Linked DNA regions of Homo sapiens: regions 1, 2 and 3 are each linked to region 4. The links come from fine-mapping of genetic effects on gene expression. A gene starts in region 4. Each other region holds a variant in brackets. All regions are shown on one strand. Distances are between the middles of the regions. Region 1 overlaps FICD (FIC domain protein adenylyltransferase). Region 2 overlaps SART3 (spliceosome associated factor 3, U4/U6 recycling protein). Region 3 has its middle 59 kb from the start of CMKLR1. Region 4 holds the start of ISCU (iron-sulfur cluster assembly enzyme).

Region 1 (8,096 bases), 40 kb before region 4:
ATCACATCTACCACACAGTGGCCATCGAGGGCAACACCCTCACCCTCTCGGAAATCAGGCACATCCTGGAGACCCGCTACGCCGTGCCCGGGAAGAGCCTGGAGGAGCAGAACGAGGTCATAGGCATGCATGCAGCCATGAAGTACATCAACACGACTCTGGTTTCGCGCATCGGCTCCGTCACCATCAGCGACGTGCTGGAGATCCACAGGCGGGTGCTGGGCTACGTGGACCCCGTGGAAGCCGGCAGGTTTCGGACAACACAGGTCCTGGTCGGACACCACATCCCTCCCCATCCGCAGGATGTGGAAAAGCAGATGCAGGAGTTTGTACAGTGGCTCAACTCCGAGGAAGCCATGAACCTGCACCCAGTGGAGTTTGCAGCCTTAGCCCATTATAAACTCGTTTACATCCACCCTTTCATTGATGGCAACGGGAGGACCTCCCGTCTGCTCATGAACCTCATCCTCATGCAGGCGGGCTACCCGCCCATCACCATCCGCAAGGAGCAGCGGTCCGACTACTACCACGTGTTGGAAGCTGCCAACGAGGGCGACGTGAGGCCTTTCATTCGCTTCATCGCCAAGTGTACTGAGACCACCCTGGACACCCTGCTTTTTGCCACAACTGAGTACTCGGTGGCACTGCCAGAAGCCCAACCCAACCACTCTGGGTTCAAGGAGACGCTTCCTGTGAAGCCCTAACCCTAGAAATCCTCAGTGACAAAGGCTGTCCTGAGGTAGGAAAAAAAAAAAGAAACAGCATTTCTAGAAACCTAGTCACTTCCTAAAGCAAAAGGAGAAACATTCTTTACCTCCAAATGTTTTAGTTTTAAAAAAAAAAAAAAACTAAGTTATGAAGCCTTGTCTCTAAAATAACTTATAATTCAACCAAGCTATTTATTTTCTTCTTTGGAGCAAGCTAGTCAGTATTGTATGGTGTCTGCTGTGTCTTGCTGGTGGCCGTGCTTTAGGGGCAACAGTGCCACCATGTGACCAGAACAAAGGTTCTGGAGCAGAATTTGCACTAAGGTGGAGGAGCGGCCAAGAGGTGTGGGACGGGGCCCAGAGCCACTGACATAACTCCTCCAAGTGCTTCTCTGAAACAGGCTGAGAGGTTCTGTGACTGCAACTGGGAAGTCAGACCCAAGTCGCAGCTGAGAGAAATGGTTGAAAGCTCACTTTCTCAAGGTTTAGATTAGTGGTGACTAACTTCCAAGCAAACTTCATAGAAGAGAAAATGAATGCCGACATTCCTTACTTACCTGCAGGAAGACTTTTTGAGCCATAGTTTGCAAACTTTAGTGCCAGCAGCTGTTTTTTTTTTTTTTTTTTTCATATTGAGACTATTTTTCTAATTAAGAATAGGGGGTAGCCATAAAGAGCTGTATGTTGGAGGGGGAAACATGGTGGGCGGGCAGTTTGGTTTTCTTTGTGTATCCGCGTTTCTCTCACACTTCATTTGTAGCAACTCAGGCCAGATGTTTTCGTCTGAAATTCTCTGGGCTTGTCATTCCACCTGTATCGTGCTGCAAACCAGGTGTTATGCTAGTAGGCATCTGCCCTCACCCCTCTGCCTGAGTTTTCTGTAGGCAGATGTTAACCTGAGAAAACAAGTGCCATGTGGACACCAAGTAAGCATTTTTGATAATGAATTAGAGCACCAGTTTCTACTGAATGGAGCAAAAACCTTCAGCCATGGCCAGGCTGCATCCCTTTGGTCCTGGAGTTTCATCTACTTACTGCCATCTTCCACGGTCTTTGCACTGTCCCGTGTCCCATCCCCCTGGGAGGCAGAAGAGATTGCCTCGGAGTGGCCTTATTTTTCTCGCAACTTGTGAAATGATGTAGTGCTCTATGTAATATGGCCGGGTTTCCAAGCTGTCATCCAATGGAAGTAGAATCTTCTCTTTGAATCATATGGTACAGGTGCCAATATGACTGCTGCTATTTAGAGTCAGAGAGGTGGAAGTCACTGGGTCCCTTTCCCAGTGACAGAGCCCATGATGTCTAACACTACTGCACTTTGTCAGTGTGTGAGTGATGGCGAATACGCAGTGTTGTCTCTTTGATTTGGTAATTCCGTTCCTGACAGTAATGAGGCCACTGCTCTAAAGTAGTTTATACAGTTCTTCAGTTGTATAAATAGCACAGAGTAGTTTTTGAAAGGTTAAGAAAAATAAGTGAAAAGACATACACGATATATGAAATGGCTCCAAATGATAATTGTTCAAACCTTTATAAAATGTGTTTTCGTACTCTTATGCTGCCAGAGGTACTTCTTAAAACTCTTCTCGTCTTGGTTTTATAAGCACACCACGGAGGTCTGACAGATGTGCTTGCTTCTACTACAGAGCAAGAGAATTTGCACTTTAGCTATATGTGAAGGATATTATTTTAACAAATTCCTGATTCTAATAAAGTTATTTTATTACATGAATGCTTGAGACTGTCTTATTTGGGAGATGTTCCCATCTGTCATAAGGGCAGTGGGGGTATTCTGACCTTTAGCCCTATTCATAATACTGTTCTGGGAGAGCAACAGATCCAAGATGGTGATTTCCATGGGCAAGAGACCCAGAAGTTGGATAAACCGCCTACCTAGGTGGGCAAGGATGAATTACTGATTTTTTTTTACTAACAAACAGTCAAGTAACTGAAGTAGTTTTTCACATTTCTATTTATCATCAGTTCTGGATTTTCTGGGGAAAACACACAAACCCACTCATGTAGTCCTGGAAATCCATTTCTAGAACAGTCAACACCCGGAACCTAACTGGGTTCTGCTCAAGCCTGAAAAGGTTTGCCCCTGTACCAAGCCTGGGCTGACATCTGCAAGTGTGACATTAAGGTCAGAATACTGGCTGCAGGCAAAGCCAAACCGTTAATGTGAAGCAGCAAAAAGTAAGGCCACACTCACCCATAGTGATATTCAGGGCTCTTCATGTGTCAGGTCCCCAACCATGAGGGCTCTGAGCTACCCAAATCATCACACCAGCTGAACAGTCCATCAGCCTTCCAAGCAGCATCACAGAGAACACTGCAGGAGGAACGCGTGGGACAGCAAAGGTTCTTGCTGCTGTCAATAGCCGCCGCTTGAATTTAATTCAGAAGTAAAGCCTAGTAAAAAGTTGGTTTTGTATAAAAAAGAGATGGAGGGGAACCTACCTTTTAAGACTTAAGAGGCTTACCAACCAATAATTTACAGGGAGGAGAGCTGATATTTGTAGGAAGGTGGAAATTTGAGTGGACAGTTGATGACATGAAGGGATTACCACTAATGTTTCTAGGAGTGAAGGCCTTTCAGTCCTCCTGAGACACCTGCCGCAACATTACTGGATGAGCAC[A/G]ATGACATCTGGAACGTGCCTCAATATAACAGAGGGTGGAGGGGAAACAGACATGAAGGAAGAGGGGCTGGGAGTTGAGGAATGCTGGAAGCTGAATGGTAGGCACACAGGAGTTTATTTTACTGTTCTGTCTACTTTTTAATCGGTTATATTAAAAAATGTTAAGTTAAAAAAATATAGAAAACCCGACTGATGCACAAAAACTTAAACTTACGCAACAGATAAATGAGGAGTTGATTCCCACGACATATACAAGGATTCCCTGACGTCTTTCTCCAGAGTGTCTTAATAAAGCAAGCTTCCCCTACTGAACTGGCCAATGCTGTTGCTGTTTTCAAAGCAGTAAATATTATTTGATAAAAGATGTGAGGTAAAAAAGCTCAAAAGCTCCAGTGTCAAACTGCTATAAAATGAAGACACATCACAGCTGGAATAATTTAAATCAAAGTGACAATGGGATTTGACTTACAAAAGTTCTATTTACACATCTATTAGGTAAAGCAAGGTACACCCACTTCAAAACACATCTGTATGTGAATGCACATCTGAGTACCATTCAGCAAGAAGTTTTGAAGAGAACGTCAGTTTAATAAAGCTAAATGGGGAGAATTGAAGTTTGCATTTGACATGGTATTAAACAAAACCAAAGGGCTGAAACTCATGTTTAGACAACACAGGTCACTAGTCACTAGGCAAAGAAAACAGTCCACAGCAGGTGGCACAAATAATTCCTATACAAAACAAATGTTGCAAATATTCTGCTTTTAGGAAACATGAAACAATGGCTGACATGTCATTTACAAACACATAATATAAAAATGCACAGCCCCATTGAACAAAACTCCAGCAAATGTTTTATAGCTGACTTCCCTCAGACCCACCCCCACAAGAGGCCATTCTGTGAATTACTAGCATCTGCCATTTCATCTTTTAAAATTAAAAGAATGACGGGCACATGTGCTGTGCAGGGTGGAAGAGAAGTGTCATACAAAAAGGGGCCGGAGCTGGCCAGAAACATTTGGACAACTGTGTCTCAAAAACAGTGTGTTCTCGTTTCGCTTCTGTGCCTCAGTCTTTAAGATACAAAACTATCTCAGGACACCACATCCTGGGCCCAGCCTGCAGAGTGGTCACTTTTCTGCCACTGCCCTCAATATGAGGGAGCACTGAAAGGCTCTTGACTTAGAACCCCTTCCCCTTTCTGTCTAAAGCCGAGGAGCCATCTGTGGTTGCGAGCACGCAGCACACCAGGCCTGTCCATCCCCAGTGCACTGCTGGGTGGTGGGAGGTCCGCCGGGCCAGAGTGAAGTAAGGCATTTCCTGTCTCCCAGCGTCCCGTTCACTTTCTCAGAAACAGCTTGGCAAAATCGGCATTGGACATCTTGGGTGCCTCGGTGGCTGCTGGGGCGGCAACTGCAGGAGCCGCGGCAGGGCCGTTCTCAGCCTGAGGAGCTGCAGCACTTGGGCGCTGCAGGGCACGAGGCAGTAGAGACAGCTGCGTCCTTCCCTTCCCCCTCCTAAAAGAGCAAACACTGAATGGACCTTTTGAAGCAACAATTCGTGGCCCCTCATTTATTTGTGAAAATAAGCCAAGACAGTTTTAATATAACCAGAAGTTAAAAGGTGAAAAAAAAAAAGGATAAGATAATCCCTGCCTCCTTAATTCTGTTTATGAAGTAAAAACTGCTTCAACAGACTTGGCCTTGTTCAGTTTTGGCAAAGATCAACCCTGAGCACCAGTCACACTCAGAGGGGATCAGTGTGACTATCACCTCTCAGACCTCACCAGTCACCTGGCAATTCTGCTATCTCCTCCTCATCCCAAACCAGCGAACAGCACAGCTTATGTGGATCATAGCTAGGGCCGTAGACTGGCACACACATGGGTATGAGATTTCTTTGTAAACACACAGATCCAACTGGCAAAGGGGACTTTAAAATAATCACTGCCTTATTTCTGTCTGAAATAAATGACAAGTGTAAATTGGCCAGTACCAGGCAGAGGTCACTGCCTAGGCTTGCATCCTGCTCTGGACGCCTTGCTCCAGTGGAACCACAGTGATTACCACAAGGAACAGCACATCTTGGCTTTTCTGTCCTAACAGGAAGCTAATTCATCCCGGGTTAATCCCCCCGTGATCCATGAACTGGTGCCAGCCAGGACGAAGTTTGCACTAGTCTACCATGCAAGCACTTACGCTCCGTATGTCTGCGGCAAAAGCATGGGGCCACCTGGTGCCTTCCTGGTCTCCGGCTTCTCTGGAACTTTCCTCTGAGGAGGGTTGCTGATTGCCACTTTGATGATGTTCTCTTTGATAGTCATGCCGTCCATCTTCATCACAGCCTGCGACGCCTGGGATTCATTTTCATACTCCACGTAGGCCAGGCCCTGGAAGAGGCAAGATCCAGAACCAAGTCAGATCCCGCAGACTAGGGACGCAACCTCCTCCTGCAGGGCAGGCACTGGGCTTCCTCCCGGAGACCAGCAGACCAGGCCACAGCAAACGACCCACCAACAGGTTACCTTCCCCACCACCGCATCCTCTGTCTACAGGCTTATTTCCCCACCCTACTCTCCTTCCCGAGTGCTGCTATGCACTGTAACTTCAGATAACCCTTCCAAGTTCAGCACACCTTGTACGTGCTGCAGAAGTAGAAAGAAAGAAGGAAAAAGACAGATGGACCAGTATAAATCCAGCAAATAAACCAAGAGGTGGATGGGACACAGGGCCAGCAGCCCAGGTGCCCAGGTGAGCCCTCGTGTTTCTGTGCCTTCACCCGCTCCCTCATTTCATCCTCTTTTTCTCTCCATTAACCTGGATAAAGGGGAGGGAGAGTGGGCAGTGGGTAGACAGTAATGAAACCACTTACTACTCAAAATGGGGCACAAAAGGACTTAGCAGGAGACTGAGGGGGCAAGAAGGAAAGACAGGAGAAGAGGCACTGCAATGGAGGGACTCAAGGGGCCTGGTTGGAGGCCCCAGAGAAAGAGAGGCCTGGGACAGAGGGAGAAGGCTGCAGGAGGGCGCCCACCCCAAAGCCCGTATGCTGCTGGTCACAGGGCTTCCCCCAAGCCCCACAGCCAGGGGCCATAGTGTGGTGAATTCATGATCCTCTATTTCCAAGTGTCTTATTCTTTTTAGTACAATTAACTACAAACAGGTTAATCTGACTCCAAATATAAGTAGAGCTAAGTGCAGATCTTTCTGTGAAATTAACTTTTGTTTCTCAGCAGACAAACTAGGAACCCATTCTAGAGGTTAAATCATCTTTGAACCGATACAGAAACGAAGTTTGCCCAAGCCTTGAAGACAAGGCACAATCTGCTCTGACTCTGACCTTTGGTTTGCCAGCCCGGTTGGTGACCAGCCTGAGGTCCTTCACGGTGCCATGAGCCTTACAGATTTCTTCTAGTTCCTCTTTAGTACAGGAGAAAGGCAGGCCTGAGATGAACAGCTTGTGTTTCTCTAGGGAAGTGCTGTACCTGAACACCTATAGGAAGAAGGAAGACAGAGAAAAACCATGATTCGAGGCATGACCCAGCTCACCTGACTCCTCTGACACCAGCCTTGTCCCCATGAGCAGCCCAGCCAGGCAGACTAGAGCCAAGCCATGCTCTGAAACTTGTTAATGGGGCCACCGGAGCGAGTCACTTAACCTCTCCAGGCCTCCATGTCTTCCTCTGTAAAACGGCAAGAATAAAAGTAACCATTCACAGAGTCTCATGAGGAGTCAATGAGCTGACACACATAAAGCATTCAGCACAGTCCCTTGTCATTGCTAAGCACCCAGCAAGAAGGAGCCATGCCATGAGTCAGACCTCAGTCAACCGGCTCAGGATGGACCTTGGCTCACAAGGAAGTTTAGATCCAAACAGAGCGTAAAACTTCCATGTCTATCCTAAATATCACTGCTGCAGGAAGAAAGTGCCTGTCTAAAGCAACCACAGATGAAAGGCATTCTTTTTTTCCATAAACCTACCTTAAAATCGGGGTTTTTGCTCTTATCCACACAGGGGGAAACAAACATTGGCCTCCCTTCTACACTTTTCCGGTCCATCTCCAGTGCCTGAAGGGCTGATTTCTCTTCTTTAAACTCCACGTAGCAGTAACCTCGGAAATCCCCACGGTTGCTGAAGATGGGTCGGATCTGGACCACCTCCCCACAGGCCTCGAAGAGTGGCCTGAGCTTCGTGTCCGGCTCCTGCATGCTGTAGGGCAGGTTGCTGACAAAGACGGTGATGCTGTCCTTGCTGCTGTCGTGCAGCACCTTGGGCATGTCCCTCTTCAGGGAGGCTGCCTTCTCCTTCTGCTTCGAAGGGGGCTCCACATCTACGGCAGCACATTTCCCAGCGGGCCCTGCTGCTACTTCTACATTTTGTGTTTCTCCAGCTGCAGGGATGCTGTTCTCGACCCTTCTGCGTTTGGAAGGCTGCTCTACAGGTTTTCAAAAGAAAAGTAGCCATGGTTAACTGTTACTTCTCTTCAGGGAGCTTGAACAGAGGTGTGAAGTGAAAGTGCTGTGACAGCTGCATGTGACACTTACTCCCTCACCAGACTCGGAGGGGCAAGCACCACCCCGAGAAGTCTTTTGTGATCCGCCTGACCTGTCCCACGACTTTCTGTGCCCCAATTACACTCGGGTAAGTGGGCTCAATCAAGTGGAAGTAATAACATAAATCCCCATTGTCCACTCTTAATTATACAAAAGGTCAGTGGATCTCAAAGTTCAGAAGGCAAATTCCAGGGCC
Region 2 (8,104 bases), 27 kb before region 4:
GATGCCCCTAAACATTGTATAACGCACAGTCCCCCCCACAGAGAATTAGAACCCTGTGCTACAGTGACATCACAGAGTCCTCCTTGTAGCTGCAGAATTTGAGAAGAGCTGCAGGAGGACTCATTTTCAGGACACTTGTGACAGTCTAATCATAGGGCACCACCTAAGGTGGCAGCATAAACACAGTCTGTCCCCAGACTGTAACCAGATGCTCCTACTTGAGACCAAACAGCAAATGGGTTAGGCTCCAAGCCAGAAGAGAGCTGGGGGTCCCACCTTCTGTCCTCTCCATGGTGAGTAACACTTCGCAGACGTGCTCTGGGTAGTCACTGGTGCACTGGACGGCCCGGTGCAGAGCCTTCCGGCAGTGCTGGGTGTCACCATGAGCTCTAAGGCAGAAAACAAAAAGTTGCTGCCACCAGGACACAAAGTGGAAGGCACTCGAAGGGAGAGGCCGTCTTCTCCCAGGTAGAAACTCACTCTTCAGTAACTCTAGCTTCTGAGAAGACCTTAGCTTTCAGATCTATCCATGATGCTTTCTCCTTCCAGAGTCTCTACAGTCACCTACGAAGTATTTCCCTGAAGCACTCTCTCCCTCAGCCATGTAGGGGCTACTGGAAAGTGTACCTGATATTGTGATCTGCAACCAGCATTCTGCCTTTACAGCATTCACATGTGCGGCACATGGCGGGGGAGTCCAACAGCTCTCTGTAACCTGATACAGTCCCCAGGGAAATTTTACTATGGCGTCCTACTGACAGGAGAGTTATGAATCCAGGGTAGTGTCAAATTTCATACCCAGAGTCAGATCTTTTTTTTTTTTTTGAAAGGGAGTCTCGCTCTTGTCACCCAGGTGGGAGTGCAATAGCACGATCTCGGCTCACTCCAACCTCTGTCTCCCAGGTTCAGGCAATTCTCCTGCTTCAGCCTCCTGAGTAGCTGGGATTACAGGTGCCCACCACTACACCCAGCTAATTTTTGTATTTCTAATAGAGACAGGTTTTCACCAGGTTGGCAAGGCTGGTCGCAAACAGATCCTTTTTGTACACTGCTAATCACAACAGCTACACAATTCTGCTAATCATAACTGTTATGCAACAGTGTATTCATATTTGTTTTTAAAACATTTTAAATATACATAATTATATATACATATTATGATGCTCAGAATAAATTCAGAGCACTGGTTCTCAAAGTAAGATCCACGTACCCCTGAGGATCTCCCAGAGCCTCTCAGGGGCCCTGCAAAGTCAAAACTCCTTTTATAATAATACCAAGACATTACTGGACTTTTTCACTGTGTTGACATCTTCAAGACAGTGCACAAGTAATGGTGGCCCTTAGCACAAATCAAGGCAGTAGAAATCTTTTTAATGCACTGTGTGATGAAATACTAAGTACACTTAAAGCCCTTCTGCATACTGAAGTACAATGGTTATTGCCAAAAAAAAAAAAAAAAGCATATTACTGTTTGAGTTGCAAGCTAATCAAGTCATTTTTTTCAAGGACACCATTTTTACTTGAAAGGAAACTTGAGTGACAAACCACGGTCAGTTACTCAGACCTGGGTATTTGGCAGACATTTTTGAAAATTAACAAAGTGAGGCTGCCACTCTGGGGAAAACCACTGACATTATTTGTTGCATGTGATAGAATTCAAGCTTTCAAGTGAAAATTAGAATTTTGGAAAACTTGTATCTGCCACCACAAGTCTGACAGCTTCCTACTTAAAATACTTTTCAACTAAGATCAATACAGATATGAACAAATACGATTTTTTAATACTATAGGATGAAATATGTCAACATTGGAAGAGCTGCATGATTTAGTGAATTGGGATTTTTCCAAATAATGTCGTAGAATTGTGGCATCAAGTAAAAGATAAAATAGACAAATGGGTATTACTGTAACAGACTCTGTCAATATGGTTTCAGATTCCACATGCAACACTGAAGTTTTGCTATAATATGTATGAAAGAAGAATACCCACAATTATCTGAAAATGCTTCTAAAATACCTTTCTTTCCTAACCTCTTCAATGAAAACAACAGATCACAACAGACAGAATCAGTAACAGACATGAGAATTTAGCTGTCTTCTCCTAGGTCAGAATAATGTGCAAATAAATATATTTGCAAAAATAGAAAACACTGCCACTTTTCTCACTATATTATTTTGGGGTCTGGAAAACAGTCACTGCTCAAAAAAGATATTAATGTTAGATAATTTGTTATATTTAAATAAATTAAAATGTTTTTTAGATTTCTCAATTTATAAATTATAAATATCAATAGATATAACTCACATACATAAAAGTTTTTTGGGATCCTCCAATTTTAAGAGTGGAAAATGGATCCTGAGACCAAAAAAATTGTGAACTGCAGATCTAGGGGGATATTCAACAAGCTTTAACAGTGGTTATCTCTGGGGTGGGATTGTAAGAAACTGTCACGTTTAGCCGGATATGGTGGCTCATGCCTGTAATTCCTACACTTTGGGAGGCCGAGGTAGGAGGATCACTTGAGGTCAGCATGACCTACATGGTGAAACTGTGCCTCTTCTAAAAAAAAAAAAAAATCCAAAAATTAGCCAGGTGTGGTGGTGCACGCCTGTAATCCCAGCTACTCAAGAGGCTGAGGCAGAAGAATTGCTCGAACCCAGGAGGCAAGGTTGCAGCTGAGACTGCACCACTGCACTTCAGCCTGGGCAACAGAGTGAGACTCCCCACCTCCCCCGAAAAAAGAAAAGAAACTGTCGCTTTCTATCACATATTTTTGTAAATATTCTAATTTGGGCACACAGTGTTTTTTAAATAGGGAAAAAATCTTCAAAAAAGAAAACCCAGCAATGTAGCAATGTTATGCAATGAACAACGTTCAAGACAGACTGAAAAGTTGGTCACATTCTTTATGTTTTCCCCATGTTATAAATATTGTTAGGCCTATCTTATTTCGTTCAAATAGTTTTAAAGGCTTGTAACACATGCATGCTATAATTGCATTTTCATTACAAAAAAATTTAAACATAGAAAAGTCTCAAAGAATGGGTCATGGTTATGACTGGGTCAGTAATTTGAGTTTTTTTTCTCTTAGCTTTTTAGTATTTTCTACTTTTCTATAAAAGCAAATATAAAAAACAAATAGCTCCAAAAGGTCAAATAAAATATCATGCCCAAAAATCAAGACAAAAACAAATTAAAAGAAATGCATGGCTATAAGAGTTCCAGGCACAAAATATCATGTCTGGTTCTCTAGCCCTGCCCATTAAAAATGTACCCACTACTGAAAGAGACAGAATGAAAGAAAACAGCCCAGTTCTAAGGAGCTAGTCCAAGCTGGTAGGAGTCAGCCAGGAGTGAAGACAGGTGCACAGCTGACAAGCACTGCCTCCCTCCCCACCCCGAGATCAGTTACCTTTCCAGGTTGTAATACTCTAGCCACATGTTGGCGTACTTGGCATTTCCTCTGGTCATGATGCTATCCCAGAGTTCCCGAGCTTTCTGCATGTTATTGCACAGTCGAGCCTAAAGTGCATCAGCAGGCTGTTAGGAGACCTGAACCTTATGACGTCGACACCCATCATACAACACACTTCCAACAGACACACATAAAAAGCACCCCACAACTATTAGTGTTACAGATGTCCCTGGGCATTCCCCAGGCCTCCCTCCAGTGGTAAACGACCCAGCCCAAACACTTGAGCCTTTCTGCAGCCACAAGCTAATCTACCTATGTTTCCTGAGAACCGAGAGAGGGAGCGCACGGTACTTACTCGACAGTACTAGATAGTCACGTTTTTTATTTTTATCAAGCTTAACTACAAGTGTTTGAGAGACAATGTTAAAAAAAAAAAAAAGACTGATCTAGTATTAAATGCACACTCTGCTACTAATACTTACAAACTGTGACTTGGGCAAATTACTTAACCTGTAATTCTCAGTTTTCTCATCTTTAAAATGGTTAAAAGATAAGCATCCCATATAAAAACTACCTGACAAATGTTAGTTTCTTCTATCTGACGCTCCCTCCGAGGAGAAAACATGATTAGAATTGTTACAATCCTACCTGCTGATCAAGGGAGGTTCCGTGTCTTACTGACCTTGGTGTCCCTGACCCAGTAATGACATTCAAGTCATCATATCCTCTAATTACTTGTCAAATCATCTGTCTTCTACATTAGATAGAAGCCTTACTAGCAAAGGAATTTTATCTGTCTTATTCCCACAGCACCTAGTACAGTGCTGACAAACAGTACACGCTCACTGTGCTCTCACAAATGAAGCAAAGAGGCAGAGACAGAAGTAAACGAGTGAATACCTAGCATCTAAACATTTACTGCACAACTTCTAGCTGGGAGCTAATATTTTCACCAACATATTTACAAATAT[A/G]TGTCAAGCTAGGTAAATAACATGAATCCTTGTGGAGCCTAGACCATTACCTAGGTAATAACATAAATCCTTATAGAGCTTAGGCCATTATCTGGGATTCTGACTCAATTTTAATTAAAGTTTAATAGGATGCTATTAAACAATGATGGATGAAAGTGCTAGATGTGTCAAAAACATTTACCTCAATCCTAGCCCAGTTCTGCATAATCACGCAGCTTGGATCACCACTCTCATTGAAACCTTCAAAAACAGAATTAGTAAAATTAGAAAGGAACTTGGAGACAGATAGTCGCTGGCTGAAAAGGTACATCAACCAGGAAATAGTACAGACAAGGAAATACAACTGGGCAAAACCACAGGCTGGGGCATACTTACGCTCTTCCACCTCCTGCTTCAGATACTCCAAGGCACGAGTAAAGGCGGCCCTCAACTCCTCCAGCTCTTTACTGGAGTCTAACGGAAAGTGCAAAAAAAGGCTTTAGGAAACCACATAGCCTGGCTTTGTTTTATTTTTTATCCTATGCTGAAACTGCCTGGAGACCCACTATGTACCTGGCATCATGCAAGGGACACAGAAATAAAATTGCCAATTCCTGCCCTCATCACATAGTTGGGGAGAAAGAAATTTGAACAGAATAGAGCATGGACAGCGTGGTGAAAAAGGCAAACACAGGGTGCTGTGGGGGGGAGTCTCCCCCAGCTGGGGTGACACAGGCAAACAAGAGAATGGCTAAAGGCTACCTGTATGAGGTGACAGCTGACATGAGTGTGCAAGTACAAGTTAGGGGTTTTCTGGTTGTTTTCGGGGGGACATGAAGGGGCAAAGGATCCCACAGAGGTACAAAGATTTTTCTAAAACACAGCAGACTTATTTCAAGAAGTATTTAGGATAAATAAAAAGACCTGAAAGGAGAAATGAGAGCTAAGACTAAAAAGGCTGGCAGGAGCCAGTATAAACGATTACTCTCTTGCTTTACAATCCACATCATGACTTGTTAAAGACAGAAATTGCTAAGATTTCTGGGGGAAAAAGTCACCAATACCTAGTCTACATCATTTGCCCAATCACAATGTATCTGGGGAACTGGGACATCTCGCCAAAAGTTGTATTAAGAACATGTTCAGCTCTAAAGTGAAAAACATGTGCTTAAATACCTTGTTTGAAATCAACCCTTCTCCTCAGGTAATCAAGGTATGCCTGCCAAATCTCCACATAATCAGTGGCCTGGATGAAGCCGGCATTCAAAGCTTTCTCGAAGGTTACTGGAGTTGGAGAAAAGTCAGGATTTGTTACCAATTCAAATGGAAACTAATAGAAAGTCACTACATTCTACTGACTATAAAACACTACATGACTTTAAAGACTAATAGATGCAACAGAATGAAATGAGCTAGACAGGAATGTTGAAGACAGAAGTTGCTACAGCACTCTACAGACTGTGTTCTAGAAAAAACTTCTTCCACAAGACGCCCTGCAAGAAAAGTTCCAGATCAAGGAAGTTTGGAGAAAACACTACAACTTCTTAGAAAATACAATGAATATTAGCATGTTAAAAAGCTCTAAGAAGCCACAAATATAACCAGTTCATCTCTCACTCAGAGCCCTTTTTGTCACTACACTCCATAACCCAAAGAAAACCCCAGGGAACACTGATGTAATGACTTTGTCACCGCTCTCTGTTTTTCACTTGGGACAAATAGCTTAGAAGTTCTCCCACAAAAACATCCGCACCAGAAATTACTTGATGATCAACTCCATGTCTCTCCATGGCCAAGAGGTACCGACTCCATAAGGCAACTGTCCAGGGGCAGTTTCTAATAGCGCGGTTATGTACAGATAAAACCAAATCCTTTACTTTCAGTTGTCGATCCTATGATAAAGAATTCCAGAGTTAGGAAATTACACTTTATTAAGCATTCACCATCAACAAGACATTGCCAGCACGACCAAGTGATGAAAGAAATGTCCTTATAAACATCTCTTGTGACCTGGTTTCCTCAACAACAACAAAAAAATCACTAAGGGGAGTGGAGGAGAAGGAGAGGAGCAACTTACAGGTTAAAACAGCCTTAAAAGACGTCAGCCAACCCTACTGGATAGACCTCATTTGGATCCTTTTATACAGACACACTGAAATATTTTATATACACATACTGAAATATTTACCAACGAAATATCATTTCTGGATTTGCTTCAAAGTAACACAGAAGGGACAAGTAGGTGAGACTACAGATCAAAGTAAACTAAAGCTATAAATGTTACTAATTGTTGAAGCTGGGTGAGGGGTACAGAAGTTTCATTTTACTGATCTGTCTACTTTTATATGTTTACATTTTTGCCATAATAAAAAGTTAAAAGAAAAATATCAAGTTGTTATAAGTCCTCAACACAGACAATATGCTCATTTTACTTACAGTTAGTGACCATTTTTAAATAACTTGAAACACTAAAACTTTCTAAACGAGTTGGCAAAGAGGAGAAAAAGCAGATGGAGGAAAAGCAAGAGTAGGGCCGTATGCAACAAACTCCTGGCACTCTTACTGATTTTAAGTAGATTCTAAATTGGCAAAAATAAAATGAAATTAGAACAGTGATCTTACTAGGTACTGACTGTAACGGATCCATAAGTCTGGGACAAGGCAGTTCTCGACCAGGGCGCGCTCAAAGATCAACTGAATGCGAGCAGGATCGCCAATTTTCATCTCAAAATCGATATATGCTTGATATTCTGCCAGCCTTGGTGCCTCTGCCTGCAACTGGAGTACAGGAAAATTGTATTGAATTTAGTTACTGGCAGGAAGCACAACACATCTGCAAATAAAATAAATTTTGGCAAAACTGGCTACAGTAACTATGAATCGCCAAATCCTCACTCTCAGAACCACTCCACTATGGCCTCTACAACTTCTTGAGCAAAACAAGAGTCTTCTCATCTGGTCCAAAGTGCCAGTTCATGGCAGTCGCTACAAAGGCTCCATAAACTCTTTTCTAAATCCATTCCTAGACCACAGGGAATTAAGTAGCCCATCAATCAGGAACTGAGTGAAAGAGCAACACCTTTGCCAGTGACCACTGTCAACCACCCTTCCAAACCAGAAGTCATGTTCTTGGGCTACTGAGTAGAGTTAATACAACCAAACTGGAAAATTTTGGTGCCTGATGCTATTTCAGGTTTCTTATTCCAAATATCAGTTCCTGGAAGAATGTAGATAAATGCAGAAGATGAAGGCAGCTGTGCTGAATGTTTAATGATCCAAAGACATACAATCAAATTCTTTTTAGAAAAAAATCTTATTCGACATGTTTTCTCTTCAGGCACATTTTGCTGATGGCCATGACATAATTGAATGATCGAAGTTTTGGGAAGCACAGGTACATGCAAATCATTTACACATGAAAAAGAAAGGATGAAGCAGTGCAGGAGAGTAAGAGAACACACAGACTCCATATGTAGAAAGGGGATGTTTCAGGGCCTCCATTTCCAGTAACGAGGAAGAATTAGTTACCCAGACACACTGTACCATTCAAAACAACTAAAACTGCTAAATTAAATATAATATCTTCTTAAAAGTCATCAACAAACTGGCAAAGAAACAAGAAATACTAAGGACTAAGGACAAAATCTAAATGAGGGTGGCAAGCTAAGTAAACATTAACCTTTTGCTGGCTTGACGTATATTAAGAATCTGACCTTCACAATCCTATTGTTGGCAAAG
Region 3 (8,104 bases), 280 kb before region 4:
GTTAGTTAAATCTGCTGGCTTCCTAGGGCTTAAGTGTGGGGCCTCAGAAACTCAGCTGTACTGGAGCAAGAACCCATCAAGAAATTACAGAAACAATAATAAAAAGGAACTAACCTAAGCGTCCATCAGTAGGGGATTGGTCAGATAAATTGCAAAACTTCTATGTCTACTAGGCAATCACTTGAATAACCAAACCTGCATAGAGGAACATTTAGTGAACTGATTTTTTTTTAATTTTATTATTATTATACTTTAAGTTTTAGGGTACATGTGCACAACGTGCAGGTTTGTTACATATGTATACATGTGCCATGCTGGTGTGCTGCACCCATTAACTCGTCATTTAGCATTAGGTATATCTCCTAATGCTATCCCTCCCCCCTCCCCCCACCCCACAACAGTCCCCAGGGTGTGATGTTCCCCTTCCTGTGTCCATGTGTTCTCATTGTTCAGTTCCCACCTATGAGTGAGAACATGCGGTGTTTGGTTTTTTGTCCTTGCGACAGTTTGCTGAGAATGATGGTTTCCAGCTTCATCCATGTCCCTACAAAGGACATGAACTCATCATTTTTTATGGCTGCATAGTATTCCATGGTGTATATGTGCCACATTTTCTTAATCCAGTCTATCATTGTTGGACATTTGGGTTGGTTCCAAGTCTTTGCTATTGTGAATAGTGCCACAATAAACATACACGTGCATGTGTCTTTATAGCAGCATGATTTATAATCCTTTGGGTATATGCCCAGTAATGGGATGGCTGGGTCAACTGGTATTTCTAGTTCTAGATCCCTGAGGAATCGCAACACCAACTTCCACAATGGTTGAACTAGTTTACAGTCCCACCAACAGTGTAAAAGTGTTCCTATTTCTCCACATCCTCTCCAGCACCTGTTGTTTCCTGACTTTTTAACGATCACCATTCTAACTGGTGTGAGATGGTAGCTCATTGTGGTTTTGATTTGCATTTCTCTGATGGCCAGTGATGATGAGCATTTTTTCATGTGTTTTTTGGGCATAAATGTCTTCTTTTGAGAAGTGTCTGTTCATAAATAAAAATGTTATAGAACAGAGTATCTTTTTTACTAGATAGTTATTAAAAGATACAGACATATAAACTAGACTTTAGATTATAAACTAAAATGATAATAGTACTTATTCCTGGGTTCACAGGTAGTTTTCCTTTAATCAATCTTCCTTTCTTTCACTTTCTCTTTCTTTCTTTCTTACCCTTTCTTTCTTTCTCTTTATTTTCCTTTCTTCCTCCCTCCCTCCCTTCCTCCTCTCTTTCTTTCTTTCCTTTTCTTTTCTTTCTTTCACTTTTTCCTTTCTGTCTTTCTTTCTTACCCTTTCTTTCTTTCTCTTTCTCTCTTTCTCTTCCTTCCTTCCTCCCTCCCTCCCTCCTTTCTTTCTTTCTCTCTTACTTTCTTTTTCTTTTTCCTGGTTTATATATACTAAATTTTTTGCCAAATATGATGAGCTAATATTAAAAAAAGAGAAAAATTATTACTCTCAAGGGATAAGGCATTCTGATTTTCTGAGAAATAAGTTCTTACTTTTTAGGAGAGCCCACCCCACCAAACACCATAATTTTGCTCAGATCCAATAATTTATGTTTTCTCCTAACAAAAATGTGAATCTCCGGCCTGAACAGGTTGGTCATTATTTTTTAAAGTGTCTCCTGTCTCTTCTGTAGGAGACACCACTCAGTGCCTATCCCTAACCCATTCCCCTTCTTCCATGTAAATGAAACCCTGATCTTGTCTGAATGTCCACTTCTTTGTCCTGTGTCCCCTGGGTGGATCCTGATTGGTCTAAACCAATCTTCTTTCCTTATCAGTGATTGGTTTAGCAGTAGCCATGTGACCCAGTTCTGGCCAAAAAGGTGTGAGGGGAGTTCTGCTAGGGGGTTGGGGGCGGGGGCAGATTCCCTTGCAACACTCTGAGATAATCAATGGCTCTTCTACTTGATGCCATGGGCAGCTGCAATATCTGATACTGTGAGTGCCATCTTTTGACCAGGAGATATGTCATTTTGGGGACAAAGCCAATCCTCTGAAGATGACAGAGCAAACAGAAGGAAACACTCTGGATCCTTGATGCCAATATTCAGTTGCTGAGTTCTCAACCTCCAGGCATTCTTAGTATGCAAATGAATGCACTTTTCCTATAGATTCTACCGTTTTGAATGAGGTCTCTGTTACTTGCAGTCCAATGCATTCTAACTGATATAATCTTATTTCTTTCAAACTTTGCTTGGTTTATTTTAAACCGTGATTCCTAAGATAAATGTTAAATAGCATAGGGTATCAAGACTTTTATTCGTGTAATATATATTCCTAGCCTTTAAAGATATACTGATTTTCTGTTTCTGTGCTTCTCAAGTTTACAGGGATTGATGTGTCTGAACCAAAATATGAGAAGATGACTGAGCAGTTGAATGAAATGGAGGATCACATCATGGAGTGGGAAACCGGAGCCGGGCATGGACATGTCCAAGTTTTTGCCATGTCTCACTGCTAATGTATTGTGAGACTAATTTTTCATCAGAGATCCTGGGATGGGCTTGACAATACTGATTATAGGGCTTTTTATCTCTGACATGTTAAGATTGAACTAGCTGTTTCCATACATCTATCTATATCTGTGAGGATTCTGTGGCCAGCAGACCGAAATGAGGTTTATAAAAGGATAGAATGCCCAAGGAATTCAGGAATCAGAAAGTGGGGACATTTCAGATTCTAATAACCTGCAAAACCAATCGTCCCTATAGGGAGAATGGAAGAAGCTAGGGAGCCTCCACCTATTCCCTGTTTCTTTATCCTTTAACCTGCCTCAGTTCCTGCAATTTCACCTTTAGCATGCCATTCACTTGGGTTAAGCAGCATCATCTTTTACTGCTTTTTCAAAGGAAGGAAAAGCTATTGGATTAGGTCACTTTTCTGTTTTGAGAATTCAGGGATGGGAGAGCAGTTATTGACAGGTGCGTCATAAAACCCAGAATCAATCTCAACTCAGCAATCCCTAGCCAAAATGTGAGTCTTCTCTAACTCCTGACAAGTTCAAGGCTTCATAACATGAAGTCTTTCCCTTTGCTCTGTCCTAATTCCTCTGTATCTAACTTATTTAACTCAGGAAGGATATGTAGTAAAAGAGTATAAACCACACAGTTATACAGCTGTGGGTTCAAATCTCAGCTCTGCTGCATGCCAATACATTGCAAGATTCATGAAGGTCAGGATGGCATCTGCAGCTGTATCCCCAGAGCCTAGCACATTGCCTGCCATATAGTAAATCCTCAATACAAATCAATGGGTAGATTCTGTGTGGTTCTGGGAAGCTTACTTGTTCCCACTGAACTTCACTTCTTCGTTTCTTTCTTTTTTTTTTTTTTTACTTTCATGCAAAATCTTTATTTGGAACATGTGTGTTACTGAGCAGGCCAGCCGCCATCCTGAAATAGCAAGGGTATTTACATTGTGCAGAGAAACATAACAGCTCCTTGAAGACATTCATCTGTGCTTGGCCGGTATTTTATCTGGTACTTTGCTCTGCTTCTCTCTTCCCTGTGCTCATTATTCTTCATGCACCCTCACTCCTTTTCACCTTAAGGCATCCTGTACCAGCTGACCTATGGGCAATGACCGAAGCCAACAATCAGCCGCTACCAATTGTGTCTTTCTGGGACCCATTCTACCTGCCTTAGGTATTAATGGTGCCTAAAGAAAGAATAAACAGATGAAAGTTTCTGTGGTTAGCTGGCCATGGTGGTGCACACCTGTAGTCCCAGCTACTTAGGAGGTTGAGGTGGGGACAGCACTTGAGCCCAGGAGCTCGAGGCTGCAGTGAGCCATGATCACACCACTGCACTCCAGCCTGGGCTATAGAGCCAGACCCTGTTTCAAGGAGAAAAAAGTTTCTTTGGCGTTGCCAAGCCTTGTCTTCACCAAATTTTAGAAGTTTTTTTTTTATTTAGTATTTCATTTTATTCTTCTACATATAAAATCAAATGGTCACTGGATTAGTAAATTTGAAAACTTTCTGTGTGTATTGACCATAATCTTAACTACTGTATCCTTGAAACATGGTATAAATTTTTGATTAAAAGTAATTCACTCTGATTTTTTTAAAAATCTACTTGTCAGCCAGGCACAGTGGCTCACACTTGTAATCCCAGCACTTTGGGAGGCCAAGGTGGGTGGATCATGAGGTCAAGTGTTCGAGACCGGCCTGGCCAACATAGTGAAACCCCATCTCTACTAAAAATACAAAAAAAAATTAGCCAGGCTTGGTGGCGGGCGCCTGTAATCCCAGCTACTCAGGAGGCTGAGGCAGGAGAGTCACTTGAACCTGGGAGGCGGAGGTTGCAGTGAGCCAAGATTGTGCCACTGCACTCCAGCCCAGACAATAGTGCGAGACTCTGTCTCAAAAAAAAAAAAAAAAAAAAAACTACTTGTCAGGAGCTCATTGCTTTGCTAGTGTCCACTGCTCAGCCAGAGATAGTGGTGAATGGCCTGTTTGCATTTCTTGAAAGATTTCCATTCTGCTGCTCAACACAGGTTTTCTGCCTTCTTTAGAGTCTGAGGTCCATCCTATGGTTTTCCTGATTCTGGAGAATGGCCTGCAGCCTCCCACTTAGGGCTTGACTGTGCTCATCTAGTCCATCCCAGGGCTGGAAGGGACATCCCTGGTGGTCCACAAAGGTGACCCAGCAGTGCCTAAACTTCCGGAGGTCATGATGGAGATTTGGGTCCCAGCCC[T/C]CTGCAGCATGCACAGCCCCTCATATCCTGGGAGATAATTATAGATGCATGCAGCGAAGATGTGCAGGCTCACACATCTGTTCTCCCAATGAAATGTAGCCACTTGCTGGGCACAGCTGAAGCAGGGACTCCAGGAGATGAACCAGGTGACCCTGTAGCACTGAGCCCGGTCCAGCTTCCAAAAGGAAATCAGGTACAGGAAGCACTGCTCTGCATGGAAATCTTAATAGCAACTGAGATTATTCAAAGCCTGGCTGGGTAGGATGCCCTTGTTGCTGGTCCAGAGGGACCCAGGCATCATTGTTTTGGCACTCCACCTTGCAGCACAGGTAGGTCTGGTGCTGCCCAGAGACTGAAGGATCATTGGTAAAATTGTAAGTGAATGTGTCTGAGAATCTCCCCCAGCATGCTGTGCAGTAATGCATAATTTGTATTCAGTTGCTTCCAAGGATCAAATAGCATTCTTTGGTTGTACACAAATTTGTCCCAACAGTGTTGAAATTCATCATAGTTCATGATCTTCATGCTGGCATGTGGACTGTTTTTTCTGACACCATCTGTGAAGCTCCTCTTGGTAATCTGCTTCCCAGAAGTAGTAGAGGTGGGCAACGAAGATGGTCAGGGTGACCTTGCCATCCTTGGCCAGGAACTCTGCCACGTTCCCTGCATACTCTGAGCAGGGACTCCAGGAGATGTACCAGATGACCAGGTAGTCCTGGTCACGATGCAGCCTCGAGTTGCAGAACCAATCTACGAATCTCATCTCTGGGTGGTGTTCAGGCTTGGAATAGACCTGGCCTCCAAAGATCCTTGCGTCCAAAGGGGGCTTTGAGGGGTCCTTCTTTGTTTTCATTTTGTAGCACAGCCAGGTGGTGTTCCAACCTGAGAGGATGGGTCTGTTTTCAAAGTTGTAGTAGAATGTGCCTGGATACATCCACTCCATCAGGTTTCTGATCTGAGGCTTCATGTGCAGCCTTCTTGGCAGGCTTGCCCTGACCATGATCTTTGTCTGAAATTTGTCCCCTGTCCCTACCTCTAAGATGTTTCTGCTTAGCTTCTCTGACAGTGAGGGCTCGAATTTCAGCTGACCCAGCATTTCTTCGTTTCTGAAGACAAGGTGGTTTTACCATTTAAGCTTCTGATAAGGATGAAATAGGTTGACCAATGTGGAGTTCCCTCTGGCTGCCTGTCACCATCCCTAAAATCCCATCACAAGTCAATCCTTCCCAGTAAGGCACTGGTGCCCAGGCAGTGGGCTAGGTATTGTAAACTGCCTGCCATCCACCAGGCTATCATCTGCCAGCAGGCAAGGCTGAGAGCCTCCATTCCACCTCCCTGTATGGAATTTGCTCCACAACCGCAGTCCCAACATCTGGAGGCAAACTGGAGACTTGTTCACTCATCTTGATGTTGCTCTGAAGGTGGAAAACATCTGCATAGTGGAAACCAGGGAAAAGATACCCTGGATCTGCCTCTTTCTGTGTTAGGCTTCTGGGCCCCACGGGACCCCCAGGTATTTGGCTGTGTGTTGGTGTCTTAGCGTCATCCAGTGTCCAGCACAGACTTTAATGCCCAGTTGACTATGATTTCTAAGTGAAGGGATAAACACAGGAAGTCTGTGGTCACAGTGGTACCAGCCAAACCCTTAACAGAAACCTGGTCCGGAAAAGAACTACAAAACAATATGAGGAGGAGGGAGGCATCTGGTTCCTTTATTTTCTGGCTGTAATAAATCAGACAACAGGGAAAAGAAAAGGCCAAGGGAGGTGGAAGCACTTGATAGAAACCTCCTTTGTCTGTGATTACTCTTTTTTTTTTTTTTCTGAGACAGGGTCTCACTCTGCTGCCCAGGCTGGAGTGCACTAGTGTGATCTTGGCTCACTACGACCTACGCCTCCCAAGTTCAAGCGACTCTTGTGTCTCAGCCTCCCGAGTAGCTGGGATTACAGGCGTGTGCCACCATGCTCAGCTAAATTTTTTTGTATTTTTAATAGAGACGGAGTTTCTCCATGTTGACAAGGCTGCCCTCAAACTCCTGGCCTCAAGCGATCTGCCCGTCTCAGCCTCCCGAAGTATGGGGATTGCAGGCCTGAGCCACCGCGCCCAGCCTGTGATTACTCTTAATGGCACAAGTAAAGAACTGTGTCTCCTCCACTTCTAAACTAAGTGACCTGCGACCTCAGTTTCCATGTTGGTGAAATGAGGAAAAATCCCACCCTCCCCAGGTTTCATTAAGATAGGAAAAAAATGTGAAAATACTTTGGAAACGGTGTATTATAAAAGTGATTGTCATGAAACTCGATGATGATGATGGCAAAAATAATGTCAGCTTATGATAATGTCTTCATTCATTCAACCAGAAGTTATGAGCAGCTTTTCTGGGCTAAGCACTGCTAGGGATACAATAAGGTGGCCAAAGTCCCTGCCATCTTGCTGGATCCAAGTAGGGGCCAGACTTAAGGCCACTAAATACACACATAATAATATGATTTCAGATGGCAGTAACTAGTATAAAGAAAACACTAATACAAAATAGGGATCTGATAGGCAGCGAGTAGGGATGGAGGCTACCTTAGCATGGCCTGTCTGAGGAGATGGCATTTGGACTGAGACCAGAAGGAGGCGGACGAATCAGTCATGCAAAGGGAAGAGGCAAGTGGGCCCAGAAACAGCAGGAATAGCAAGTGCAAGGGCCTGAGGTGGGACCAATCTTGGCTGTATTGTTGCTGTTGATCTGTTTGTTTCATTTTGCTTGAGAGGCAGAAAGGATCACCTAGCTGGAAAGCAGCATGAGATGAACTTAGAGAAGGAGGCAGTAGCCGATCACATAGGGGTTTTGATGCCATAGTAAGGGCTCTGGATTACTGTATTCTGTGATAAAAGCTCACTCTGGCTGCTTCCTACAGTGTGGGTTGAGGGAGCAAAGACAGAAGTGGGGAGGCCAGCAAGAAAGCCGATGCATATTCAGATGAAAGAGCCTGGCACCTGCTAAACGCTAAAGTGCAGCAATCTCACTGAATCCTCACAGCTGCAAACCTTTATCATGCCCTTTGTCATACAGAGGAGAAAACTGAGGCTTCGGAGGCATTGAATAGCTTGCCCAAGGTCACAGAGCCTAACTCTAACCCTGCCCTTAGCTGACGTAAATAGCAGAGCTTGGATTCGAGCCCTCGCAGTCTGATTCCTGAGCCTACCTGACCCGGTGTCATAAACATCAAAGTCCCTTTGAGTCAGGTGGTGAGGCTGGGGAGGCCCCCAGGAGGGCTTAGTCCTTCCTGAGACTCTACCTCTTTGGATGGATGCTGCAGGAGCCACTGCCCTCTAAAATGCTCTCTTGAATCAAG
Region 4 (8,102 bases):
CTTGGTGGCGGGCGCCTGTAGTCCCAGCTACTCGGGGGGCTGAGGCAGGAGAATGGCATGAACCCGGGAGGCGGAGCTTGCAGTGAGCCGAGATCGTGCCACTGCACTCCAGCCTGGGCCACAGAGCAAGACTCCGTCTCAAAAAAGAAAAAAAAAAAAAAAAAAAAAAGTAGAAATGCTAACCACCTGCCAACCCCAACAGGTTCCTCTGACAATCAGATGTAATGGGTGGGACAAGCTATACCAATGGATGACATCACTATCTCATAACAAAAATATCAGTGCCAGAGAGAGTATTATAAGGAAACTGACACTCAGTAAGGTTTAATGAGTAAACTAGATTAGCAACTTCACATTCACTGAGTGATTTCACATCCAGTGTGGCATCTAGTCCACATTTTAAGTGTAAATCCCACTATGAATAACTTAAAGGAAATCATTTCATCATTTGTTCTGAACCTCTGTTTCTTCATCTGTAAAAAGAGAATGCGGGCCGGGCGTAGCGGCTCACACCTGTAATCTCAGCACTACGGGAGGCCAAGGTGGGTGGATCACCTGAGGTCAGGAATTCAAGAGCAGCCTGACCAACATGGTGAAACCCCGTCTCTACTAAAAATACAGAAATCAGCCGGGCGCAATGGTGCGTGCCTGGATCCCAGCTACTGGGGAGGCTGAGGCAGGAGAATCGCTTGAACCAGGGCGGCAGAGGTTGCAGTGACACGAGATGGTGCCATTGCACTCCAGTCTGGGTGACAGGGCGAGACTCTGTCTCAAAAAAAAAAAAAAAAAAAAAAAGAGAGAATGTGCTCCATCTCTTCTGTTTGCCCCCTCCAAAAAACACCCTACCCTCTCCTCCCTGCCCTGTGTCCCCGAGTATAGACCTCATGCACAGGTTTCCTGGCTCTCCAGCTTCCAGATGGGTCTGCCCAGCAGGAGGCACCAGCAGAAGTTTGGTGGGAGGAAGAAAGAGAGGTCAGGGTATTTCTTCCCCCACCTCAATCCTTGACAGGAAACTGGGGCTGCTTCCCTTGAACAAAGTTATCAGCAGGTCTCAGGTGCCCTCTCCACACAATTCAGATCACACCCTTCACCCCTTCCGGCCCAAAGATGGACACCAGGTTCTGGAGTTACCAGCTATGGGATACTAAACCTTCACTCCCGATTTCCCTACCCACACCTTTATTGAGTTTCTCTCAGATCATCCTAATTTAAATGTGCCACCTATTTCCTGCTGAGATCCTGGATTATACAGTAGATATCACCACCTCATAAGGTTACAAGTGAGAGACCATGTTATGACTAGATGCTAGGCACTGAGCTATAGTTACTGTTACAACAATTATATTATGCAGAAATTGTTGCTCCCAATCTGCAGATAAGGAAGTCGAGAGGGTGAGAGAAATTAAGAAATTCTTACAAGCACATACAAGAGTTGAACAGCTAGAACTGAGGCCTTAACCTCCAGAACCAGAAACCTTTCCATTTCTATTATCACCATCGCGGTCAATATTTTTCTTACCACAAGTTTCATCATCGCCGTCATTCCTACATAACAAAATAACACTCTCTTGCGAATGAGTTTATTTCTACTGTTGGACGTGTGGTTAAGAGTGGGAGTTCTGGAATGGGATCAAAGTACAAGGCCTGACTTGCAGGAAGTGTTATCTTGAGCAAGAAACTTTCCTCCACGAGCCTCAGTTTCCTCCAGTAAAATGGGGATAGATAACAGGGCTTCCTTCACAGGGTCGTGGCGAGGATTCAATGAGATAACGTTTGCAAGGCAATGGGCAGGCAGTAAGCACTCAAATCCGACAGGAGCTACTGTCACGAAAAGCGGGTTTGCAGCCTTGGCGGCTTTATCGCCGCCGAGGACTAGGGAGGCGGGCCAGGACATGGGGACCCGAGGACCTGAAAGACTGGAAGATGCCCGCTGCCCACCCCCGGGCCCACCTGCTCCTCCAGTCTCTCAATCTCCAGCTGGTTTTTCTCCTCCTCTTCGTCATATTCCCACTCGTACTCCCCGGGGGAGCTCTCCGCGGAGGAAGCCATGGCGTACTCATCCCCATCGCTCTCGCTCACGCCTTCCTCCTGCTGATCCCACGCTGGCCCCATGGTCTTGTATGTCGCAGCGGCCACAGCCCGCGATAACACCTTCCTCCTTGTCCTAGCCGCCTTAACCTCATCCTCCTCTCCGTCAGCCTTGGGCCCAGCCTTGGACTCAGCCTCGGGTTCTGAAGCCGAGGTTTCGGCCGCAGTCGCCATCTTGCGCTTCTAATGACTCTCGGGTCTTCCCGCGGCCGCCGAAGACCCGCTGAGGCAGAAGCTGCCCGCGGCGCGCGCCTTATCAAAAACCCGTTTTCTTGCCATTGAAAGAGAAACTGGGAACTTAGATAACAGGAAAATCTCCACATACACTAAATTCACATTATTTTATACCCTGTAAAAGCTCCCACCAGATATAAAAACTCATTATAATGGCATGCGTTCCGTCACAACTTCGGACAGAAGTTGGGTCTTTGGGCAGGAAGTGGAAGCCATAGAGGAAGTCATGGAGCGAGAGTGATGTCTGTAGTGAAGAATTTGGCGCCATCTTGAGAAGGTCAAAGTGATTCTTCGATTAAATGCCTTACTTATCGCCTAGTGTGACCTGGCGCTTGGGTTTACTCTCCCCAGCAACTGCGCCTCAAACGCAAAGAAAACTGCAGGTCCTCGGGGAAGGATCGATTTCACCATTCAAGAGAAAAATCCATTTCCCAGATTCCTCCCCTTTATGTAAACGTCTGGTACCTAGTAGACGTTAAATACACGTGAGTTTTCCGGTTTTATAAGATCACATACTGCAAACCAACAGTAAATTACATTAATACGCATTTCTTTAGAAATTCTTAATTGCTAGGCACTGACATATAAATTGAGTTTGCTGTTGTTTTAGAGAGAAAAATAGACATATTCATTTTTTTTCAATCAGGACATGGTATTCGTTTCCTTCTTAAGCTTCCCATTTTTGAGGTAGGAAAGTATTGGTGTGTGTCTCTATCTCTACCTTGCTCCCTCATTAGCAGGCTTAATGGGCAGGAATTATGTCTGTTTTGCTTTCCGTTGGATCCCCGGGTCTAGTAGAGCGCCTTGACACATAGTAGGTACTCGACACAGATGCTGGCTTCATGATGAAGCAATTGTCCTCGAATTAATACAAAAGGGAAGATTCAGACTCAGCGAGCCGGTACCATTCGTCTAGGGACACACAGCCAGGAAGGAACCGAACCAGGATTCTAACCCAGGATTACCCAAGTTCGAATTCTAATTGAACATAAGTCCTTAGCGACCTTGGACGGACTTACTAAACTGCCCTGAATCTCGGCTTCCTTAGCTGCAAAATAGGGTTAGGAAAAGTGGACTCGGTGCTCCTCTGCGCCGCATTCCCGCAGCGGGATTTGTGAAAGCGAACTTGAGCCCCACACTGCAGAAGCCCTGAGGTCCTGTCTCAACCAGAATCCAGCACCCAGGACAAGCCCTCCAGCGACTTCAGACCTTCCCGCTCCCGACCCCGCCCGCCCCCGAGAGGCGTGGTCAAGGCGGGGCCAGAAGGCGGACGCGTGCACGGAGCGGTAAAGCGCAGGCGCAAAGCTTCGGTGACGTCAGAGAGGCGCGCTCCCAGCTCGGAGCCGACTCGCAGACGCGCCCCGCCCCTCGGCGTCGCTCTGGACTGGCGCAGGCGCAAGCCGGCAAGATGGCGGCGGCTGGGGCTTTCCGTCTGAGGCGGGCGGCATCGGCTCTGCTGCTGCGGAGCCCCCGCCTGCCCGCCCGGGAGCTGTCGGCCCCGGCCCGACTCTATCACAAGAAGGTAGGGACAAAAGAGGGACGCGCGGAATGCCGACTCAGCGGAGGCCTGGGCTGGAGGGGCGGCCGCGGGGTTCTGCGCAGCTAGGACTGGGAGCTGTCCCCTCCCACGTCTTTGCCCTGACTCGCTTTCCCTTGCTGCGCAGTGAGGCTCACTGCAACTGATAAACAACAGTTACCGCTCATCGGGCGGCGACTTCCAGGGGGCCCCGCCGCTGGCCGCGACTTCGTGCGTCCCAATTTTAAATTCGCCAACAGCCCAGGAGGCAGGGTCCTGTTGGGACTTGTCTTTCTGAGTCCAGGGACAGACACACCCCCGGAGCGGGCTCCGGCTTCAGCCACTCCGCTGCCCTGGCCAGATGACCTTGGGCTAGTCACTGCGCCTCTCTGAACCTGTTTCCCCAGGTGTAAATGGGGGGCTCTCAGCTGTCCCTTACAAAGGATACTGTGCGTGGAGTCCTGGCATGGTTCCTGGCACATAGGCCCCAGCACGAGGAGACCGTTTCTGTTACTGCTTTAGGAGTGCATAGGGGAGTCAGGCTTGTAACCAACATGCGTAATGTTTTTGTTTTGTTTGGGGGGTTTTTTGGCGGGGAAGGAGGGATAGATTCATAGTCTGCAGCCCCTTGCTGTCTGGTGGCACAAAGTCCCCCAGACGTGAGACTCCCACTCGAGAAACAACTAAAGAATGCCATAAATCAACGTGGCACAAAAGGCCCCTACATTAGATACTATCCTGAGGTCCCTTTTACTTGGAGTCAAAATCCTTAGTCAGATGGGGGGAAAAGGGGACTGGAAGATCGGCGTGCTTACTACTAACCAGTAACCAAACCTCAAGGTTATTAAGGCCTTCTGTGTGCCAGTTCGAATGGATGTTTATTGTGATCTGGCTTCTGCCCTTTCTCCAAGGGCTTCTTCACTCCTCCCCCTCCCGGGGGTGTGTTTTGTTGAGGGTACACCCTGAAGAAACTTGGACTAGCAGCCTTTCAGCAGCCAGGGTGCGCTGCTGCACCAGGGTGATGACAGGCTGTGAAATACGGTAATGGCACTGTTTTTATTTTAAAAGACACATAAACGTACACATTCCATAGCATTGTTCCCTGTGTAACAGTCACCTTAAGGCTTCTAAGAAAGCTTTCCCTCCCTGGGCCATGGTTATTTTTAGAATTTTTAAATAGTAATCATCCTTTGAGGATGGATTTTATTTGAAAATAACAAAACTGCTGTTTGAGCCCAAGTCTGGTGATGTAGGTGGGTGAAAGTCAAGTATTTTTGTAAAAATCCTATGGAACTAAGACATGATTTCACTGATTTTTTTTTCTTCTAGGTATCTCAAATCTGTGAAGTATTGTAGAGGAGACACAAAAGGAATTGGGGGTCACAAATGGTTCTCATTGACATGAGTGTAGACCTTTCTACTCAGGTGAAATTTGGTATTTAGTGATTGCCTGCCAGGTTCAAGATGCTGACCGAGGAGCTTACCATCAAACCAGAGACCAGTACCAATAGAGAGTGAACATGATTTATCTTAACCCTCTCATTTTAGGTTGTTGATCATTATGAAAATCCTAGAAACGTGGGGTCCCTTGACAAGACATCTAAAAATGTTGGAACTGGACTGGTGGGGGCTCCAGCATGTGGTGACGTAATGAAATTACAGGTATGGCTAGTCTTTTTTAATAGTGATAACAATAATCCCTTTAAGTTTACAAAGCACTTGCGCATTTCACTTGGTCTCCATCTTTATTCCTGTGAGATCTCCAAGCATTTCACTTGGTCTCCATTCCTGTGAGATGGGATGAGTCCATGTTAGATATGACTGGAGCAGGGCCTCAATCGTAGCTCTCCTGCTAGGCTAGTGTACTATGCCAACTTTTTCCAAAATAGAAAAGTAATCTCATTTTTGTACTCACTGTATCAGTTTAAATTCTGACTTCAGCCAACTAAAGAGTTTTGTGAATTTTACTGATCAAAGGAAAATCCCAGTGAGCTAGCAGTCCCCAATGAAACAAGAAACACAGTAAATTAAACCTGTCCCCAGATTGGGGGAAACATGAAAATAGTGTCTAGTGCTTTGGGTAAACTGTAGTTGTAGCACCAATCTGCTGCTTCATGGTGAGTGGGCAGCTTGCCAGAGGTCTTCATACCTATCTTGGAATACAGAAACAAAACAGGAGGAAACCACTAAGTGTAATCTGCTGCCCAAGAAAAAAGTATTAACCAGAGACCTTTATTGTGGACTCTGTCAGTGTTTAAAGAGGCCAGATTGCCCCAGCAGCTGTGAGCAGACTTCCACAAATAGAAGTTCATAGCCAAAATGCAGGCCAGAGTCACAAAACAAAAGAATATTGGAGTGGAGGGACATATTTTTCAGCTGATCTTTGTCAGTTGGGCCTGGATAGTTGTCCCTGCATTTCACTTTTCATCACTGAGCTCTTTGAAACAAGGCAAAGTCAGTAATTAATGCCATCACTTAGTGTGGAAAGCAAGCCCAAAGCCCTTGGGGAAGGCCCTGGTGAACCTTCGTGAGTGCCAGGTTCCAGAGGGTGGTCCCAGGACTCACCACTTAACTCTTGTCTCTTTTCTAGATTCAAGTGGATGAAAAGGGGAAGATTGTGGATGCTAGGTTTAAAACATTTGGCTGTGGTTCCGCAATTGCCTCCAGCTCATTAGCCACTGAATGGGTGAAAGGAAAGACGGTAAGGTGGCTCACAAATCTAATGGGTCAAAAACAAGTAACCATGACTTTTTTTTAATATTCTAAATTTTTAAAATTTCTCCTATGCAGATGTTGATTATATTATCATTTCTTCAAATTGGGAATTATGGATCATTCTACTAGGTGTTGTTTGGGTTTTTTTCTTGTTGATCATTTTTATTTTTTTGTTTGTTTGGGTGTTAATTACATATAAAAAAGATCCTCACCTGTCCCTCTAACAAAATAGAATTTAAAAGAAATCTTTGGCTTTCTCTAAGGTTACCAGTGCTCTTATAATTTCTCAAGTCAGAGAGTTGTTATAAGGTAGTTATTTTCTTGTTTATTTCCTCTCATGTTTCAGGAAGGGTTCTAGGTGGCTTTCAAGAATTGGTGAAATAAACTAGCCTGTGTTAAAAGAGGGATTAAATAATCAAAAAGACAGCAAGGGTGGGGGCAAAGTGAACAACGAAATCAGAACAGTGATCCAGGTGGCTGATCGCAAGCCCTCTAAAGGCAGAGATAATAAAGAGCTAGAACTTCTTTTTCATCCCTTTGTCTCCCAAGTGTCTTTCCCTGGTAGCTGCAGAGGTCAAAGGTCCCAAACACAGTGAAGAGCTGGACTTTCTAAAATCCAGTTGCTGTCAAAACCTCTCAGAAAAGCCAACCAGCAAGGCACTCATCTTTGCTGCCCCAAGGGACCAGGTTCAGGGAGCTGAGTCACAGAGGAGCATGCTTGGAAGCTGGCCAGCTCCACAGCAGAGCAGTTTGCCAGGCCACGTGCCACCTGCTTCCTGTGGCTCACGGCCTTCTGGCTGGCAAGCCCCTGTGGGCCAGGAAGCTCAGACCTAACCTGCTGTGGCAGGAGGTAGCTCTGAAGTGATTTGTCAGGAACTGTCCTCAGGTGAAGGGAGAAATGAGACAAGGCACTTTTGCTCCCAGAACCTGGCCCTTAGGGGACTGTGAATTGTGATCAGAAAATGGGAGAGAGGACATTTCTTTAACCTTGAGATCTCCCATCTGAGTTTCAGGAGCAGAACCTGAATCAACCAAGAAGGGTTAGCAGAATTGGGAAACTGAATGATAGACATAGTCAAAGAGTCTGGCTGTTGGGAAATCTGGTTTTCTGTAAGGCAGTGGGGCACTGTTCTACATGGGCAAGGATCTGCCTGCCTCACATTATCCCCCAGGGCTGTCAACCAGACCCCAGGCATCCTCTTTAGTTGATCTGGAGGAGATGCTCCTATAGGCAAAGGGGACACCAAAGAGAGCATTCGGCCTGACTCGGCTGTGCCACTGCCACTGTGCTACTTACCTGAAATCTTCCCAACCTCTCTGATGCCATTCGGCACTTCTAGTCAAAAGGATTTAGGCTAACATTTGGTATGAGGACATCGGAGAAGCTGATATTCACAAAACCAGCATAGGAAATCACTACCTTTTAAGGAAGAGATTCCTGTTACAGGCCACAAGCAGATCCCTAAGAGACTTCTCACAGGTTCCACTCCTGACTTAGAGAAGTGTCTGGGCTGTCTTTGCTTACCCAAGCCAGGCAGTGCAGCTGTGT

Evidence for each region. PIP is the estimated chance that this variant, and not a neighbour inherited with it, causes the effect.
Region 1: its variant is fine-mapped to the expression of ISCU in whole blood (INTERVAL, PIP above 0.99).
Region 2: its variant is fine-mapped to the expression of ISCU in skeletal muscle (GTEx, PIP 0.94).
Region 3: its variant is fine-mapped to the expression of ISCU in caudate (GTEx, PIP above 0.99).

What each region holds. Positions count from the first base shown.
Region 1 is chr12:108,518,772-108,526,867 of GRCh38, forward strand. It overlaps FICD (FIC domain protein adenylyltransferase), which reads left to right. Exons shown (of 3, transcript NM_007076.3): 3 at 1-2,439. The coding sequence ends at 704. SART3 (spliceosome associated factor 3, U4/U6 recycling protein) reads right to left here. Exons shown (of 19, transcript NM_014706.4): 16 at 7,328-7,782; 17 at 6,686-6,838; 18 at 5,545-5,735; 19 at 3,443-4,863. The coding sequence ends at 4,686. Among named protein-coding and RNA genes, the nearest start is that of FICD, 7.5 kb to the left of the region's middle. RefSeq lists an enhancer at 5,825-7,024. The variant A/G (reference allele first, on the strand shown) is at 3,347.
Region 2 is chr12:108,531,946-108,540,049 of GRCh38, forward strand. It overlaps SART3 (spliceosome associated factor 3, U4/U6 recycling protein), which reads right to left. Exons shown (of 19, transcript NM_014706.4): 7 at 6,989-7,144; 8 at 6,120-6,258; 9 at 5,543-5,650; 10 at 4,763-4,840; 11 at 4,569-4,627; 12 at 3,414-3,523; 13 at 277-389. Among named protein-coding and RNA genes, the nearest start is that of FICD, 21 kb to the left of the region's middle. The variant A/G (reference allele first, on the strand shown) is at 4,388.
Region 3 is chr12:108,276,509-108,284,612 of GRCh38, forward strand. It overlaps the pseudogene LOC196469. Among named protein-coding and RNA genes, the nearest start is that of CMKLR1, 59 kb to the right of the region's middle. The variant T/C (reference allele first, on the strand shown) is at 4,761.
Region 4 is chr12:108,558,893-108,566,994 of GRCh38, forward strand. ISCU (iron-sulfur cluster assembly enzyme) reads left to right here and starts at 3,704. Exons shown (of 5, transcript NM_213595.4): 1 at 3,704-3,844; 2 at 5,387-5,500; 3 at 6,429-6,539. The coding sequence starts at 3,731. SART3 (spliceosome associated factor 3, U4/U6 recycling protein) reads right to left here and starts at 2,281. Exons shown (of 19, transcript NM_014706.4): 1 at 1,951-2,281. The coding sequence starts at 2,262. RefSeq lists enhancers at 2,360-2,419, 2,430-2,529, 3,384-3,443, 3,514-3,593, 4,124-4,193 and 1 more and silencers at 3,804-3,923, 4,884-4,933.